Regions from separate parts of the Homo sapiens genome. Here region 2 is linked to region 1. The links come from fine-mapping of genetic effects on gene expression. Tissue or cell type: coronary artery. Region 1 holds a variant in brackets; the other region holds the start of a gene. All regions are shown on one strand. Distances are between the middles of the regions.

Region 1 (8,261 bases):
GACGCCAGCCCTGGGTCGTGACGTCATCACCGCGCGGGCGGGCGGACGTGACGTAAGTGTCGCGGCTCGCTTGGAGTGGAATGTGTCAGGGACAGTCGGGACTTCTAAAGGGAGGGGAAGGGCCCTATGATTGGGCTGTGACGCGTGAGCGCATTAATGACGTCACTGCGGCTCGGGAGAGCGCGCCATGAGGTCATAAGAGCCTTTTTCCTCCAGGAAGAGAGATACCGCGATCCAAGGAAAACAGGCAGTGGGAAGGAAGTTCCCGCAGCCTGTGAGCCCAGCCCGATGCACGGAACCCAAAAGACAGAGACTTCATGGGGAAACAACTTTAGGTGTCATTGGTTACTTGGAATTGTGGAGCTGCCACGTCATTCATTTAACAAATATGTTTTGAGACCTACTCTGTACTGGGCATTGAGTATACAGTTCTGAATAAAGCAAAACGGACCCCTGCTTACATGGAGCTAACAGAATGAAAGAGGACGCAAACAAAACAAGAAATAAGTAAAATAATTAGGCGATCACAAATAAGGGAATGGACACTGAAATAAGAAAATAAAAAGACCTTTAGGGTAGTAAGAGATGGCACTTTCGGAGAAGGTGGCGTCTAAGGAAATGTGAAGGATGAGAAGGGAGGAACCAGCCACCATTCCTGTAGGAAGCTCAAGGCAGCAAAACCAGCACGTGCAAAGGCCCTGGGACAGGACTAACTTGGTGCATTCAGGAATGGGAAGAAGGCCAGTAAGGCTGGAGCATTTTGAGCAAGGACCCATTGAGTGGCCCCTTTGCATCACCTCAGAGGAAGGTGCCCAGACATCCAGGTGGGCCAACCTGTGCTCTTTCAGAAACAACACGATTTAGGGTGCAGTCGCTCTCAGTCTCTCAGCTACCGGGAAGCCTCTTAAGATCCAGGAGCCTGGGAACTCATTATCCTACTTTGGAATCTGTCACAGTTCTAGTTAGAAGAAACCTAAGGCTGAGGTTAACCATGACAGCCCCCTAATTTTACACATAAGGGAACTGAAGCCCTGAGAAGGGGAAATTTTTTGGGCTTTTGCTTTGTTTCTGAAAATCAAGTAATTGGCAGGTCTCCTGGCTCCCAGTCTGGCGTCCACCACGCTGGCATCATAACACACTGACCTCGTCTCATAACTCAGCTCTGAACACAGTCGAGGCATTCAGCAAATGCTTATCGGCAGACTTAGGGGCTTTGTGTATAAAGCTGATTCTTCTGCAACTCCATGGGTAAAACATAAGGTCTGTGTTCTCCATCCATACGTTAGGCTGGGCTCTGCCAACCTCTTCTCTCCTTCCAGCCCGTTGTACTAAGGGCTCGTGTTTGCAGAAAAATGATGAAAGTTAGAGGAACTATTGCTTTTTTTATTTTTTGAGACAGAGTCTTGCTCTGTCGTCCAGGCTGGAGTGCAGTGGTGCGATCTCAGCTCACCTCAATCTCCGCCTCCTGGGTTCAAGCGATTCTCCTGCCTCAGCCTTCCAAGTAGCTGGGACTACAGGCATGCGCCATCACGCCAAGCTAATTTTTGTGTTTTTAGTCGAAATGGGGTTTCACCATGTTGGCCAGGTTGGTCTCGAACTCCTGACCTCAAGTGATCCGCCCACCTCAGCCTCCCAAAGTGCTGGGATTGCAGACCTGAGCCACCCCGCCCGGCCAAAAGAAATGTTTCATATAATCCGTAAGCTAAAGGTTTTTTTTTGTTTGTTTTGTTTTGTTTTTTTTTTTTTTTGAGACGGAACCTTGCTCTGTCGCCCAGGCTGGAGTGCAGTGGTGTAATCTCAGCTCACTGCAAGCTCTGCCTCCCAGGTTCACGCTATTCTCCTGCCTCAGCCTCCCGAGTAGCTGGGACTACAGGCACTCGCCACCCCACCCAGCTAATTTTTTGTATTTTTAGTAGTGACGGGGTTTCACCGTGTTAGCCAGGATGGTCTTGATCTTCTGACCTCGTGATCCGCCCACCTTGGCCTCCCAAAGTGCTGGGATTACAGGCATGAGCCACCGTACCCGGCCAAGCTAAAGGTTTTATTGAGCTCAAAAGGACACTCGGTAATTTTCTTCCTTCTAACTTGTTATACTTGGTGAAGAAAGATGGCTCTAAGGAGGAAAGGACACAAGTGGGAAGGAGATGTAGGAAGCTGGCGTTTCTTTTTTCCTTCTCCCTCCAGGAGAAGAATAGACCTGTCAAATTGAGAATAGTAGCTCTATTTCCAGGAAATCCTCTCTATGAGGCTTAAGATGTCCAGGAATTTCTCATAGTCCCCACAGAAGGTGAGAATAAGGTAGGGGTCAGAGCTCTCCAGAATCTAGAGGGATGATGTGATTTAACCAAGAACATACCCCAGGAACAAAACTGGCTTCAGAATGGCATACCTATATACAGTGACCTCTAAACGTACTAAGTTTAAACACGGCTCACTTGCCACCCTTGCCCAGTCCTTTTATAACTATTCTCATACTTGCTATCTGCCACCAACCTATTGGAGTCATACACCACTTCCTTTGTTAAACAGAGCAAACCACAAAATCATCTTGTTTTCTGCTGCTCTAAAAACTTCTTGTCATTCTTAAAGGGGATTGAGAGAAGAAAAGAAAATGTCAAAGCTTCCTTGCATCAGTGTCAAACCTGTCAATTTAATGCATGGATGGATTTGCATGTCTTTTTCCTTTTATCGGTTGGCTGATATTTGGGTTTCTTTATGCACCTACATCTGCTTGTAATGCTTGTGGGTTAACTAAGAGTTTGCTCTGGTGAATCAAGGGCAATGTATGCATGTGCCAGAGCTTCACTCTCAATGGGAGCATTGTTGCCGTCTGAGCAATGAGTCTCCTGTTACACAATATTGGGAATTGTTTGGCAAGCATACTTAAAACACACACACACACACACACACACACACACACACACACACACACAACCTTTGCATAGTTGAACCTAAAAATCTTCTAGCCTTGGGATTAGAATTCTTTCTCTCCCATTGGTAGATTTATCCAGAAATAATTTCCAGTTTGAGACGCTGGGAAAAAATGTATTAATAAGAAGGTGTCCATAGCATAGCACACATAGCTACAAAACTATGTGTGCGCACTAGAGGAATTATTCCCCCAGGTGTCAGGTGGAACAGCCATGCTTCTCTGGGGACTCACAGCCTGATGTCACCACCATGTCACTGTCATGTACTAATACCTACATGTCCAAAATGACCTACATACTAGTCATCCAGAAAAAAGAAATCGTTTTAGATACAGTCTCTGCTTTGGAGAGCAAGAGAAGATATACAAATATAGAATAGTATTTTTAAAATTATATTTAGGGTTGATGTTATTTTGGTGTGTTATAAAGGTAGGGGGCCAGGCCTGGTGTCTCACACCTGTAATCCCAGCACTTTGGTAGGCCAAGGCGGGTGGATCGCTTGAGGTCAGGAGTTCGAGACCAGCCTGGCCAACGTAATGAAACCCCATCTCTACCGAAAATACAAGAATTAGCCAGGTGTGGTGGCATATGCCTGTAGTCCCAGCTACTTGGGAGGCTGAGGCAGGAGAGTCACTTCAGCCTGGAAGACGGAGGTCTATAGAATGGTCATAGGAGGGGAGGGTGAATAAATGACATTATGAGAACTTAAATGTCCAACACTATGGGAATGGTTAAGTAAATTGTAGTAAATCTGATCAATGGTATATTTTCAGCCATTAAAATAAGATACGCAAAGACTATGAAGCTACGTGGAAAAAGCAACATGAGTTAAGGTACAAAGGCAAAATATAAATGTAGGCTGGGCATGGTGGCTCACACCTGTAATTCCAGCACTTTGGAAGCCTGGGGTGGGAGGATCCCTTGAGTACAGGAGTTCAAGGCCATCCTGGGCATCAGAGGGAGACTCTGTCTCTACAAATATAAAATTAAAAAAAAATAGCCCGGCACGGTGACGCATGCCTGTGGTCCCAGCTACTTGGGAGGCTGAGGTGGGAGGATTGGTGAGGCCCAGGAGGTTGAGGCGGCAGTGAGCTGTGGTCGCACCACTGCACTCCAGCCTGGGCAAGAGATTAAGACCCTGTCTCTTTCTCTGTCTCTCTCTCTCATTCTCTGTATGTGTGTGTGTCTGTGTATATATATCACATGTATAATGTGTATACAGACTGATTATAATGAACAAGCTATATTTCTATAGGACAAAGACTCGAGGGTAACAAAGTATTTAAGTTGTTAGTGGAGAAGTTAGTGATTTTTTTTTTAAGGTTACAACAATGCTTGTGGATTGAAGTTTTTTTTGGTTTTGTTTTTGTTTTTTTGAGACAGAGTTTCGCTCTGCCGCCCAGGCTGGAGTTCAGTGGCATGATCTCAGCTCACTGCAACCTCCGCCTCCCAGGATCAAGTGATTCTCATGCCTCAGCCTCCTGAGTAGCTGGGATTACAGGCACATGCCACCACACCCAGCTAGTTTTTATATTTTTAGTAGAGACGGGGTTTCAACATGTTGGCCAGGCTGGTCTC[G/A]AACTCCTGATCTCAGGTGATCCACCCACCTTGGCCTCCCAAAGTGCTGAGATTACAGGAGTGAGCCACTACACCCGGCCAAGGATTTTTGTATTTTTTTTTTTAACTAAAAGGAAGAAAACGAATATAACTAATGTAAATGTAGCTGCTCACAACCTCAAGAAAAACAAAAAAGAGTTTATTAAATATCACTGGCAAAACCAAAATGGTCACCAACAAAAATAATAAAATCCTGCAAACCCAAACTTACGTGCTGCACCAACCCACAATAAATAAAAATGTATTGGGTGATATGCCATGAAACAGAGCAGGGCAGATTTTCACAGCCTGATTTTCACTAAACTCCCTGCTGGAGTGTTACTGAAAATTCACTTTTCTTACTATTTACTTAAAGGAAGATGGGGGTCTTAATCTTGCTCTTTTTTTTTATCTCTCAACAAAAATGCTTCTGTTTTGCATCATTATTTCATATTTAAAAAGAGGTGATAAAGCTATTTTTACCTCTTGTGTTGATCAACCCAGCCAGGGAGAACAACTGCAAGACCACTTAACTTTTTTTTTTTTTTTTGAGACGGAGTCTCACTGTCGCCCAGGCTGGAGTGAGTGGCACAATCTTGGCTCACTGCAGGCTCCGCCCCCTGGGGTTCACACCATTCTCCTGCCTCAGCCTCCCGAGTAGCTGGGACTACAGGCGCCCGCCACCTCGCTCGGCTAATTTTTTGTATTTTAAGTAGAGATGGGGTTTCACTGTGTTAGCCAGGATGGTCTCGATCTCCTGACCTCGTGATCCGCCCGCCTCGGCCTCCCAAAGTGCTGGGATTACAGGCGTGAGCCACCGCGCCTGGCAAGACCACTTAGCTTTTGCTTCCCTTATGAATGATTTCTCTGGTCACCCCTAGAGAGGACCCCAACTGTTTTCAAGTCCCAGAACCTTGCTTTCCTCATTAAAATAGCCTTCAGAAAGTGGCCCTGCAGCATTTTTTGCCTGATTTGCCTTGACACCGCAGATAAACCACAGAGGCAACAGCCTGTTCTCTGCTTATATGCATTGCGATAAGCCTGACAGTTTCAAGAAGATTAGGTTCATCCACTAAGAAATTAACTCAGCTCTAACATTCACCTCGAACCCTGACAATGTTGAAAAACCTTACGTCTAAGTGGTTATAACACTTGAGTTGGTTTACACATAGGTAAAAGTACAAAGACAGGATTTCCAGGCATTGGGTTTGCAAATTCTCTAGAGAGAAACTAGAAACTGAAACCCTCTCAAGGTGGTTTTTTGTTTTGTTTTGTTTTGTTTTTTTTTAGGAAACCTTTATAGGTTTTTGTTTGCTTGCTTCTTTAGTTACAAAAGTAATTTGCACCTTGAATTTCTTAACTGAGTCATGGGCTTATATTATTATCTATTCCTTTTGATAAATTTGAACTATTTATAATAAAATATACAAATTAACATCCAAATACTTAAAAATAACGTTTGTTTACTGTAAAAACTGTCTAAACTGTGAGAAGTGTGTAAGCTGAAAAGTTAACAACAAACCCTATTGAACCCATGTCCCAGAGGTAGCCACAGTGATCAGTTTTGTTTCGGTTCTAGAATTTTTAAAAAGATAAACATGTACGGGCTGGGCGTGGTGGCTCACGCCTGTAATCCCAGCACTTTGGGAGGCCGAGGCGGGTGGATCATGAGGTCAGGAGATCGAGAACAGCCTGGCTAACATGGTGAAATCCTGTCTCTACTAAAAATACAAAAATTAGCCGGGCGTGGTGATGCATGCCTGTAATTCCAGCACTTGGGAGACTAGATGGGAGGATCACCTGAGCCCAGGAAGTCGAGGCTGCAGTGAGCAGTGATCGTGCCACTGTACTCCAGCCTGGGCAACAAAGGGAGACCCTGTCTCGAAAAAAAAAAAATTACCTGGGTATGGTGGCACATGCCTGTAGTCCCAGCTACTTAGGAGGCTGAGTCAGGAGGATTGCTTGAGCCCAGGATTTGGAGGCTGCAGTGAGATATGATCGTGCCACTGCTCTCCAGCCTGGGTGACAGAGCGAGACCCTGTCTCAAAAATAATAATAAAATGGCATAAAATAAAATTCAAATAGTAGATAAGGGGGTCAAACAAAAACCATTAACAACTTGTGTTTCCTTCCAGAAGTTTTTTCAGTGCTTATTCAAGCAACTATATTCATATCCACCCTCCTACCCACTTACTTTTTTTTTTTAAAGCAAGAGAGATCACACTCTACTTATATGGAACGTGTCACTTTGCAATCATATAGCTAAGGACAAATCAATATAACTCCTTAGCGACATTAGCTGACCCATAGCTGGTTCCAAAAACTCTTGAAACCTATTCAACAGGTGTTGCCTGAATTTACCTTTCCCCTAGTAGTGCTGAAAATAACGTTGGTGTTTTTTTTTTTTTTTCCTTTGAATTCCATGCAGGGTGTTTTCTTCTTTTTTTTTCAAGTGAAGATTCTTCTCAGCAGAAGGTGTTAATCCAGGCACTAAATCTGGAACATTCTAATCACTGTGAAATTTTGCATGTCTCGTCTTAGGCAGAAAATGTGTGAAGATACCAGTTTATTCTGCTCTTACCTTGCGGTCCTTCTCGAGGTGATTCTGCATATGCTAATGATCTTATGTCAGCTCCCACCTCAGTCACCCCCACCTCTTCACCTCCTGGACCTGTTGCCCTCAACGTCAGTGCTACAGAAACCCACCTAGTTTACGCTCTTCTTTCAAGAGGGGGGTGCCTTATCTGATGCACTCGAAATCTACTCCCTCCTCCCAAGCCTTTCTATTTATATAACTGCATAATGTTTAACTGTACAGGGAAGCTATGAATCCTGTATTCATTTCCTATGCTGTGACAAACAACCACTAACTTAGTGGCTTAAGCAACACTCATTTCTTCTCTTACAGTTCTGCAGGTCAGAAGTCCAAAATCACGAAGTCCTAAAGTCAAGATGTTGGCAGCCCTGGTTCTTTCTGGAAACTCAGAGGGGAGAATCAGCTCCCTTGCTTTTCTCCCAGCTTCTAGGGGCCTCGGTCAATCTCTGCCTGTTTTCAGATTGCCTCCTCTGACCCTGACGCTCCTGCCTCCCTCTTAGGAAGCCTTTTGTGATGACATTGGACTCACCTGGATAGCCCAGGCGCCACTCCCCACCGCAAGGCCCTTCGCTTAATCAGACCTGCAAAGACCTTGTACCACACAAAACAACGCTGGCAGGGCATGAGGATGTGGGTGTAATTGGGGAATTATTATTTAGTCTTCCACGCCATCATCCTTTACAAATAAATAAATTAGGACAAAGAAACTAAGTTCTCCTTGGCCACCAACTGTTCATCCTTTCTCCCCATGGGCGACCACTGTTAACACTCCTTGGTGTGAATTTTTCCAGACCATTTTTATTCTTTAACATATATACATATGAATGCACAACAGATTTATTTAGTGTTGTTTTGGGTAGTATTTTTGTTAAAAAATATGGCATCCTATTCTGCAACATGCTTCTGTCTCTGTTTTGAAATCCATCTCTATTAATACACGTAAAACTAGTTCAGCTACCACTTTTAAAAAATTACTTCTTATTGTGGTACAATATACATAAAGTTTATCATTCTAACCGTTATTATTTATTTATTTATTTTTGAGACAGAGTCTTGTCTGTCACCCAGGCTGGAGTGCAGTGGCAGATCTTGGGTCACTGCAACCTCCACCTCTTGGGTTCAAGCAATTCTCCTGCCTC
Region 2 (8,000 bases), 860 kb after region 1:
CTCCAGCCTGGGGGACGAGCGAAACTCTGTGTCAAAAAAAAAAAATGTATTTTGATTCTGAACTATTATCACTGACAAGTAAAAGTAAGTTTAAGTTTGCAGAATACTAACGTATGTTTCATACTCCTAATTCACTTTGGGTCTGACAGGTTGCTCTGTCTTATTGCAAGATAAATCCTTCTTATGTATTTCTTAATGTTTTATGGTGTAGGTCAGATTACTGCTCTGTGCCTCCAGTGACTCAAGTGGCAGGAGAGGGTCTCGTTACTTGTGCACGTGCTTTTGTGTGTTGGGCAGTGAGAGACAGCGGATGTGTCAGAGTTTCTGTTCACACTGGGAAAGCCAGCACGGGGTTGGGGGTGCGGGGCAGTGTTTAGCTAAGTAAAAATATATGTGCCAAGAACATATTTTGGAATGAAGCAATTTCAGCACAGGAATTTTTTTTTTTAACTTATAAATGTTGTTTTAAGGAATGTGATTTCATAATCTTCCATTAATACATGGCTTTTTTTTTTTTTAGGGTAGAATTTCAGAACAAATTCTACGTTGGTGCAGGCACCAAATTTGTTCCTTTCTCATTCAGTCTACTTTCATCAAAGTTCAATAACGACGACAGTGTGGCATGATCATATTGCTGTAACCAACAAGCTTTCAGATTTATGGAGAATGACCATGTTATAGACTTTCACTTATGTCAGATTTATGATAGGAAAAATTCCATCTTCATTACTGCCTTATGACATAGCCAAATAATTCTGTAAGATATACCTCTTCCTCATATGTTAAATATTTTGTAAAGTTTACCAATTTGAGATATAAAAATTTCTTTTGGTTTTTTATGATGAGCAAATATAAGTTAATGCCAAACGTTATGTTAAAGTTATTTTTTCAAATACAGGATTTGGGGAGAGAAGCCAATTTTGCATGGCTAGTTGAAAATGGTATTAGATACTTATTTCCTTTAAACTTTATTTAAAACAAACAACAGAGTTAATCTGTCACCTGAAGTTGCCAGATAATATTTTCCAACAGCTGAAGTAGGGATAGTTTTTTAAAAAATTTAATGATGGGTAATCAAAACATTCACATTTATTCTGCTGGATTTAAAAATATGTACTTTTTTTTTTTTTTTGAGATGAAGTCTTGCTGTGTCACGTAGGCTGGAGTGCAATGGCACGATCGTGTCTCATTGCAACTTCCGCCTCCTGGATTCAGGTGATTCTCCTGTCTCAGCCTCCCGAGTAACTGGGATTACAGGCATGCGCCACCGTGACCAGCTAATTTTTTTGTATTTTTGTAGAGATGGGGTTTCACCATGTTGGCCAGGCTGGTCTCGAACTTCTGACCTCAAGTGATCCACCTGCCTCGGCCTCCCTAAGTGCTGGGATTACAGGCGTGAGCCACCATGCCTGGCCAAAATATGCAAATATTTTTTATCCTGTGCTACCTAGAATTACAAGTAGAGGATTGTTTTTACAATTTTGTCTTGTTTTAGTAATTGGGGACAATGGGATAAAATGACATACAACAAATGGTTATCCCACTTGTATATTTTTTTAAAGACTCTTATCCTGTTACCCTTACATAAAACCAGTTATGATAATTGTATGTTTGGAAGATAAATTGTATGCTGAGCCTTAAAACCCAGTGTGACTGTAGAAGATATAATGCGGACATGATTTGAATTTAGTGACAGCTTGGCTGATGTCACTGAACCAGAAGGGTTTATACTGAGTGAAGGAAAGGTAAAAAGTAGTATTTTGTATATTTTTGTAACAAAATATAAATGAAGATATTTTACCATGAAGAGATTGCACTTATCCTTGAGAACAGTCTAAATATAAATGAAGATATTTTACCATGAAGAGATTGCACTTATCCTTGAGAACAGTCTAATGATACTTTTTTTACTTTCAGACTGTTTCTAGCTAAAGTTCTGATAAAAGTATTGAGTTAATTTAAACTTTCAAACACTGTTTAGATCAGTTGAAAACTAATTCTTAATAGCCATTGTTTTATAATCTTTAGTTTAAATTCATCTGTTTGACATTTGGTTTTTTGTGAACTTGAGTCAGTCCTATTGAACATTTTGACCTATATTCTTGCAAATTATGTTAATTTTTCATATTTTAGTTTGATTTTAGACAATTATTTTCAAAAAGAAACCTGACTTTTTTTCACCTTCTTGACATTGTGAGTGATACACGTTAAAAGGCTATTTGCCCGCATCCTCCTCTATCCTGTTTCGAGGTAGAGAGCTTGGCACTTCTGTTACAAGCTGAGAGTCTGGAGGTGCTGAGTTTAACGTGGCTGTGCAGCTGATTTCAAGGCATGAGCTGAACAGCGTTGACACAGCCGTGACTTACAATTAAACCCTTTCAATTACAGTACAGATTCTGTGTGCTACTTGATGAGATGTTACCCAAGGCCAGTTTGGACTTACTGCTTTTTGTCCCTCATATTAAATTATCAAATGATGCCGATGAAATGCTTGAAAATGATTCTGCTCTCAAAGTTATGCTTCCCTAGAAAGGTGTCATGTCGGGCACTTGTGTTGGGTGACTATGACATCCCAGCAGTGCTGGTCAGGTCTCAGAGTTGCTTTCACCTAGAGCTGATGCTTCCACAAGGGGACATTTGTGTTACTTTGCTCCAGGGGTCTGTCATAAAAACAATGGTAACTACTTCATCCCTAGGAAGCCCAAGACTTCAGGGCACTGTTAGCTGATTGGTAAATAAGGGACACGATATTCACGGGAATTGTTTACTGCTCCCCACTAGTAATTCTCATGGGGCCACTTTTTTAACTCTTTCTAATTAACACCTCTTCTCAGCATAGAGCAGAGGATGCAGTCATTTCTCTGTTGAAATCTATGTAGTATTTATGTAGAATGTCATTATATGAAAAGCGAATTCAGAATCCTAACTCTGGGAAAGCGCTCTCTGGAAATGTAGTTTGATAATAGTGTCTTATAGGGGCCACGGGAATTTGTTTCTCTATAAAGCGATGGGCTCCAGTGTCATGTTACCAGAGTTATCGCTCAGTTTTGTTTGTTAAGGCTTTTGCTAGAACCTATTATGTATCCAGTTTTTAAAACATACTTCATTCCCTTGATAGCAGAGATCCAGAGCACAGATGGCAAGTTGTGTGGATGATACTGAATATGTTTATTTTCCTAAAGATAAATGTCACGACACGACATTTCTCAGTTTTTATTTAGATGTTTATTACCATGTGTTAACAGAATCTTAAAACCCAAGGGATTTCTTCAGTAAACTAGACTTTGATTCAACCTGCTGGGCTGGAGACTGTAATTGCCGTGGTCAGTTAAGGAGTGCAAAGGGTGTTCTGTCTGATAGGATCTGGGTGAGCCCTGCGGACTTTCCAGCAGCGAAAGGACTTGGAACTCCTCTTTCGCTGAATGCTGCTCTGTTTCTGGAATGGATATTTTATAACAACATTCTGGTGTCAGCATCCCCTCAGCAGTTGTTTATTTAAAAATTTTTTTATTTTTTTTGAGACAGTGTCTCACTCTGTCACCTAGGCTGAAGTGCAGTGGTGCAGTCTCGGCTCACTGCAACCTCTGCCTCCTGGGTTTAAGCAATTCTCCTGCCCTAGCCTCCCGAGTAGCTGGGATTACAGGCGCCTGCCACAGTGCCCGGCTAATTTTTGTATTTTTAGTAGAGACAGGGTTTCACCATGTTGGCCAGGCTGGTCTCAAACTCCTGACCTCAGGTGATCTACCCACCTTGGCCTCCCAAAGTGCTGGGATTACAGGCGTGAGCCACCGCGCCTGGCCCTCTGCAGTTGTTTAATAAGGCACAGAATACCTGTAGCATAGGTCAGCCTTACGATGTCCATGAATTACATATTCAGACGTTTTAGAGCCTGATACATTTTGGAAAAGAAAAACAACTTCTACACCTATTCTACAGTCCGCATTTAAAACAATAAATTCCTCTATTAAAAACGTAAAGCCGGGTTTGCTTGCGTGCCACAGGGAATATATCCAGGAAGGTTATTATGAAGCTGTCAAATCAAGATGATGGGAATAAGGCAGTTTGAACGAACAGTCTTCCCACAGTCAGGCCATTTTTGCTGATTTGGTTTAGAATTTTCAGAAATACTTAGTACACTCCACCTGTTCTTTGATGGGAATATCTAAGAAGGCTAGGTAGGTTCTTAGGGTTAGCCTGAGTCATCTAGGGGCTCAACTCCTTGTGAGGGGAAATGACAGTGAACAAGTTAGTACTTTGCTCCACAAATGCATGAAAGGACAAATTTGCATCTTCTATCAGTATTTAACTTCCTTTTGCTAATGACAAATAAATATATCTATATTTTTAAACGTGGGTGTTTTGCTTTATTATGCTCTAGTTTGGCAAGAAAGCTAAAGAACTCTGCTCCTTCCCTGATTTTGTAGGCCATGAGGAACTCGTGCTTTCTCGGCTTATTTCCTCCTCGTCTGGCCTCTAATCCCGCCTCTGCCACCGCCGAGGTGCTGTGACCTTCGTCTCGCCAACTCTCTAGCCCCAGCTTCATCTGCAAGGTGGGCGGGCTGCTTGCAAACCGGTCGGCGTGGGGTGGGGTCGCACCCTCGGCTGCAGCGGCCCGAGGGCGGCTCCTGGCGGCGAGGGTCCCGCTCCGCATCCAGGGGCGTGCGCGCTGCCGGGGCCAGGGAGCAACCAGCCTACCTCGGCGGCCCGGGGGCCTGGTGCGCGCCTCCGAGATCCCGGGGCCGGGGCGTGGGCTGCGGCTCGCGGGTTCGGGATCGAGGGGCCGGGCGCGGGGCACTGCCGAGCTTGCAGCCCCCAGCGCCGGCGCCGTCGGCGGGGCGAGCTGCGGCCGTTTCCGGGGCGCCCATTGCTAGGGCCGCCGTTGCCACGGACGCCCGCCCTGCGCCCGGCTCCCTCTGCACTGCGCGGCGCCATGGACGACCTGCGGGTGCTGTGGATGCGCGACCGCGTGTATGCGGCTTTCGGCATCACCGACCCCCAGCTTTTCGAGGACCTGCTCAACCGCGACGACGGCCAGGGCGAGGACCTCATCTTGCACTTCCTCAACCAGGCGAGCGAGGAGGAGGGGCCCTCGGCGCTCTTCATCTACCGCACTATGGTGCCGGAGGAGGTGGAGGTGGAGATTGGTGAGCCTCGACGCGCCGCTCCCTTCCCCGGGCTTCCCTCCTGCCCGTCCCGGCCTCTCCGGCGGGCGCCGGGGCTGCTAGAGCCTGCCCATCGTCCGGCCCCGGCCTCAGGTGCTGTCCACAAACGCTGCCGCCCGCCACGTGCAGGCCCCGGGCGAACCCAGCAATCACAGCCGTCCCTGCCCTCCTGGGCCCACAGCCCACTTGAAAGTCAGGCCTTGATTGAAAAATCACAGCAAACACTGACTTAGCCCGCACCCCGTGCCAGGTGCGGTTCCAACGCTTGTATCAACTCCTTAACCCTACGAGGCGGGTGTATCCTCATCCCTATTTTACAGATGAGCAAACTGGCACGGAGGGGGTTAAGTAACCTGCCCAAGGCCCACGGGGCGTCAAGATCCACTGTGCAATAATCCGAACGGCTGGGTAGAGCCATGCCCAGGTGTGGCAGGGACCCAGGTCACTGTCACTCTCCTTGACGGTCGCAGCCTCTCACGGAGGGTCCGAAGAGCACCCCTTTCTACTTCTGGAGGCTCCTTATATCCTAAAAAGTAAAATAAGGCTAGGACAAAGTTTAAAAACTACAGTAGACTTTAAATGTTTATGTTGAACAAATTAGCATCGCAAATACAAAAAGACAGTGACCAGGGTCCCAGAACCCTCTGTGGAGGCGGATCCCCAGCCCCACCTACTCTCTGATAGGCCAGGGACACTGAGAGGGCAGGGAGGGGCCAGCACAGGTGAGAGGAGGAGGCAGGACAACTCGCTTCAGAAACAGCTAGAAGGAGACTGGGACCTCGAAAGCCGCCTCCTCGCAGGAGCACCAGCTGGAGCACAGCTACCGGGACCTCCTGCCTGGCTGTCCAGTCTCCTGGGCTACTTTTCCAGCCCCTTAAGGACTTGGGGATCCCTTGCAGGGCCTCTCACTGGGTTCGGGTGGCAGGGCCGGCAGACCTTTGATTTTTTTTTTAAAGGTACCAGGCAGATTCATTTATTGTATTCTATTTTTTAACTTTTTTTTTTTTTTTTTTGAGATAGGGTCTCACTTTGTCACCCAGGCTGGAGTGCAGTGGTGCGATCTTGACTCACTGCAACCTCTGCCTCCAGGGCTCAAGTGATTCTCCCACCTCAGCTTCCTGAGTAGCTGGGACTACAGGTATGCGTCACCATGCCTGGCTAATTTTTATATTTTTGGTAGAGACAGGTTTCACCATGTTGCCCAGGGTGGTCTCAAACTACTGAGGTCAAGTGATCCTCCCGCCTCGGCCTCCCAAAGTGCTGGGATTCCAGGTGTTAGCCATCTGGCACCTGGCCACTTCTTTTTTTTTTTTTTGAGACAGAGTCTAGCTCTGTCGCCAAGGCTGGAGTGCAGTGGTGCAATCTCGGCTCACTGCAACCTCCACCTCCCTGGTTCAAGCAATTCTCCTGACTCAGCCTCCCAAGTAGCTGGGATTACAGGCACCCATCACCATGCCTGGCTGATTTTTGTATTTCTAGTAGAGACAGGGTTTCACCATGTTGGCCGGGCTGCTCTTGAACTCCTGACCTAAAGTGATCTGCCCACCTCGGCCTCCCGAAGTGCTGGGATTACAGGTGTGAACCATCGCGCTTGGCCACCTTCATTTATTTTAAATATTCATTATTTGCTTGCACAAAATAAAACGCCTTCATCATAAATCCAAAACCATAAATAAACAACAATAACAAATCCCTAGTGCCATCTGGAGAGAGGACCACGTGATCACGTTTTGGAATTTAACCTTCCAGCCTATTATTTTTTTCTCCCTGGCAGACCTTTGGACCTGAACATTAGATTATAACTGGACCTCGGATGTAGGCACTTTCATTGGCACCAAGTGAAATTATGGAAACCAAAAACACACTCGCAGGATTGACCGTTTAACATGTACCACCACTGCAGGAACTCGGGTTTCGTTTACATTAAAAAAAAATTACAAGACCCTAAAACAATGGATGTGACTTGGATTTCTTGCAGAAGCCCTCCAAGGGCCTCTGTTAACGGTGGGGTGGCTGTTGTCTGCTGTGTTTACTAGCACGTGTTTAGCCCAAATGTCATCCAGTGTGGAAGCAGAGTTCAGTCTCACCTCAGAGGGTCCCCCTGGTTAATTCCTGGACCCTCCAAAGGGAGCTCAGAACTCCCCCACCCCGCCCCCTGACCCGTTTCTGGGCTGTCTCTGTCCCTGGTCTTCCCTTCCATTCCCGTCCCTTCTCCACTATCACCTCATGGTGAAAAGCTGATGGATTCCTCGCCGAAGATGCTGTCTCTGGAAACTCTCAAAGCTGCCGATTCTGGAGGTGCCAGATGGCGTCGGGTGTTGGGGGTTCTGGCCAGGTGGGGAGAAGAGACCTCATCCCCAACTCCACACGTTGTCACTCACTCTCTGCTTGTTAAACCTACAGGCTCATATAACCCTTGAACAGTTTCCCTAGATTATTTTTGGGGGACAGGTGGTTCTGGTCTGTTCAGAGGACCTGCAGAGAGCCCAGCGTGTCCTTTGTTTCCTTTTTTTTCCTCTTTCTGCCCCCCTTCCCCGGTCAAGATTTCTCTCTGCTCCTGGTTAAAAATGATAGGAATGGAGACAAGCAGATACTGGGGCAGGTGGTGGTAATAAAGGCGAGGTGTCCTTCCGGGCAGCAGATACCCAAGATACTGATGCAGTAGGTACATGTGTTCCTTCTGGAAAAAACAAAACGGAATCGTACTGTACATATCATTTAGTAACTTCCTTACATTTAAAGAAATTACACAAATACTGCCATAACACATGTTCTCTTATGAATTCACAGAACATAGAATTACATATAAAAAGAAAAAGCAACGCTTCTCCATCCCTT

Evidence for each region. PIP is the estimated chance that this variant, and not a neighbour inherited with it, causes the effect.
Region 2: it holds the start of DNAH10, and the variant in region 1 is fine-mapped to the expression of DNAH10 in coronary artery (GTEx, PIP 0.97).

What each region holds. Positions count from the first base shown.
Region 1 is chr12:122,896,163-122,904,423 of GRCh38, forward strand. No RefSeq gene overlaps it. Among named protein-coding and RNA genes, the nearest start is that of VPS37B, 4.2 kb to the left of the region's middle. RefSeq lists a silencer at 1-105. The variant G/A (reference allele first, on the strand shown) is at 4,509.
Region 2 is chr12:123,757,407-123,765,406 of GRCh38, forward strand. It overlaps DNAH10 (dynein axonemal heavy chain 10), which reads left to right and starts at 4,895. Exons shown (of 79, transcript NM_001372106.1): 1 at 4,895-5,144. The coding sequence starts at 4,931. ATP6V0A2 (ATPase H+ transporting V0 subunit a2) reads left to right here. Exons shown (of 20, transcript NM_012463.4): 20 at 521-4,349. The coding sequence ends at 626. It overlaps LOC105370044 (a long non-coding RNA gene), which reads right to left. Exons shown (of 5, transcript XR_945481.4): 5 at 7,762-7,842. RefSeq lists a silencer at 4,476-4,895.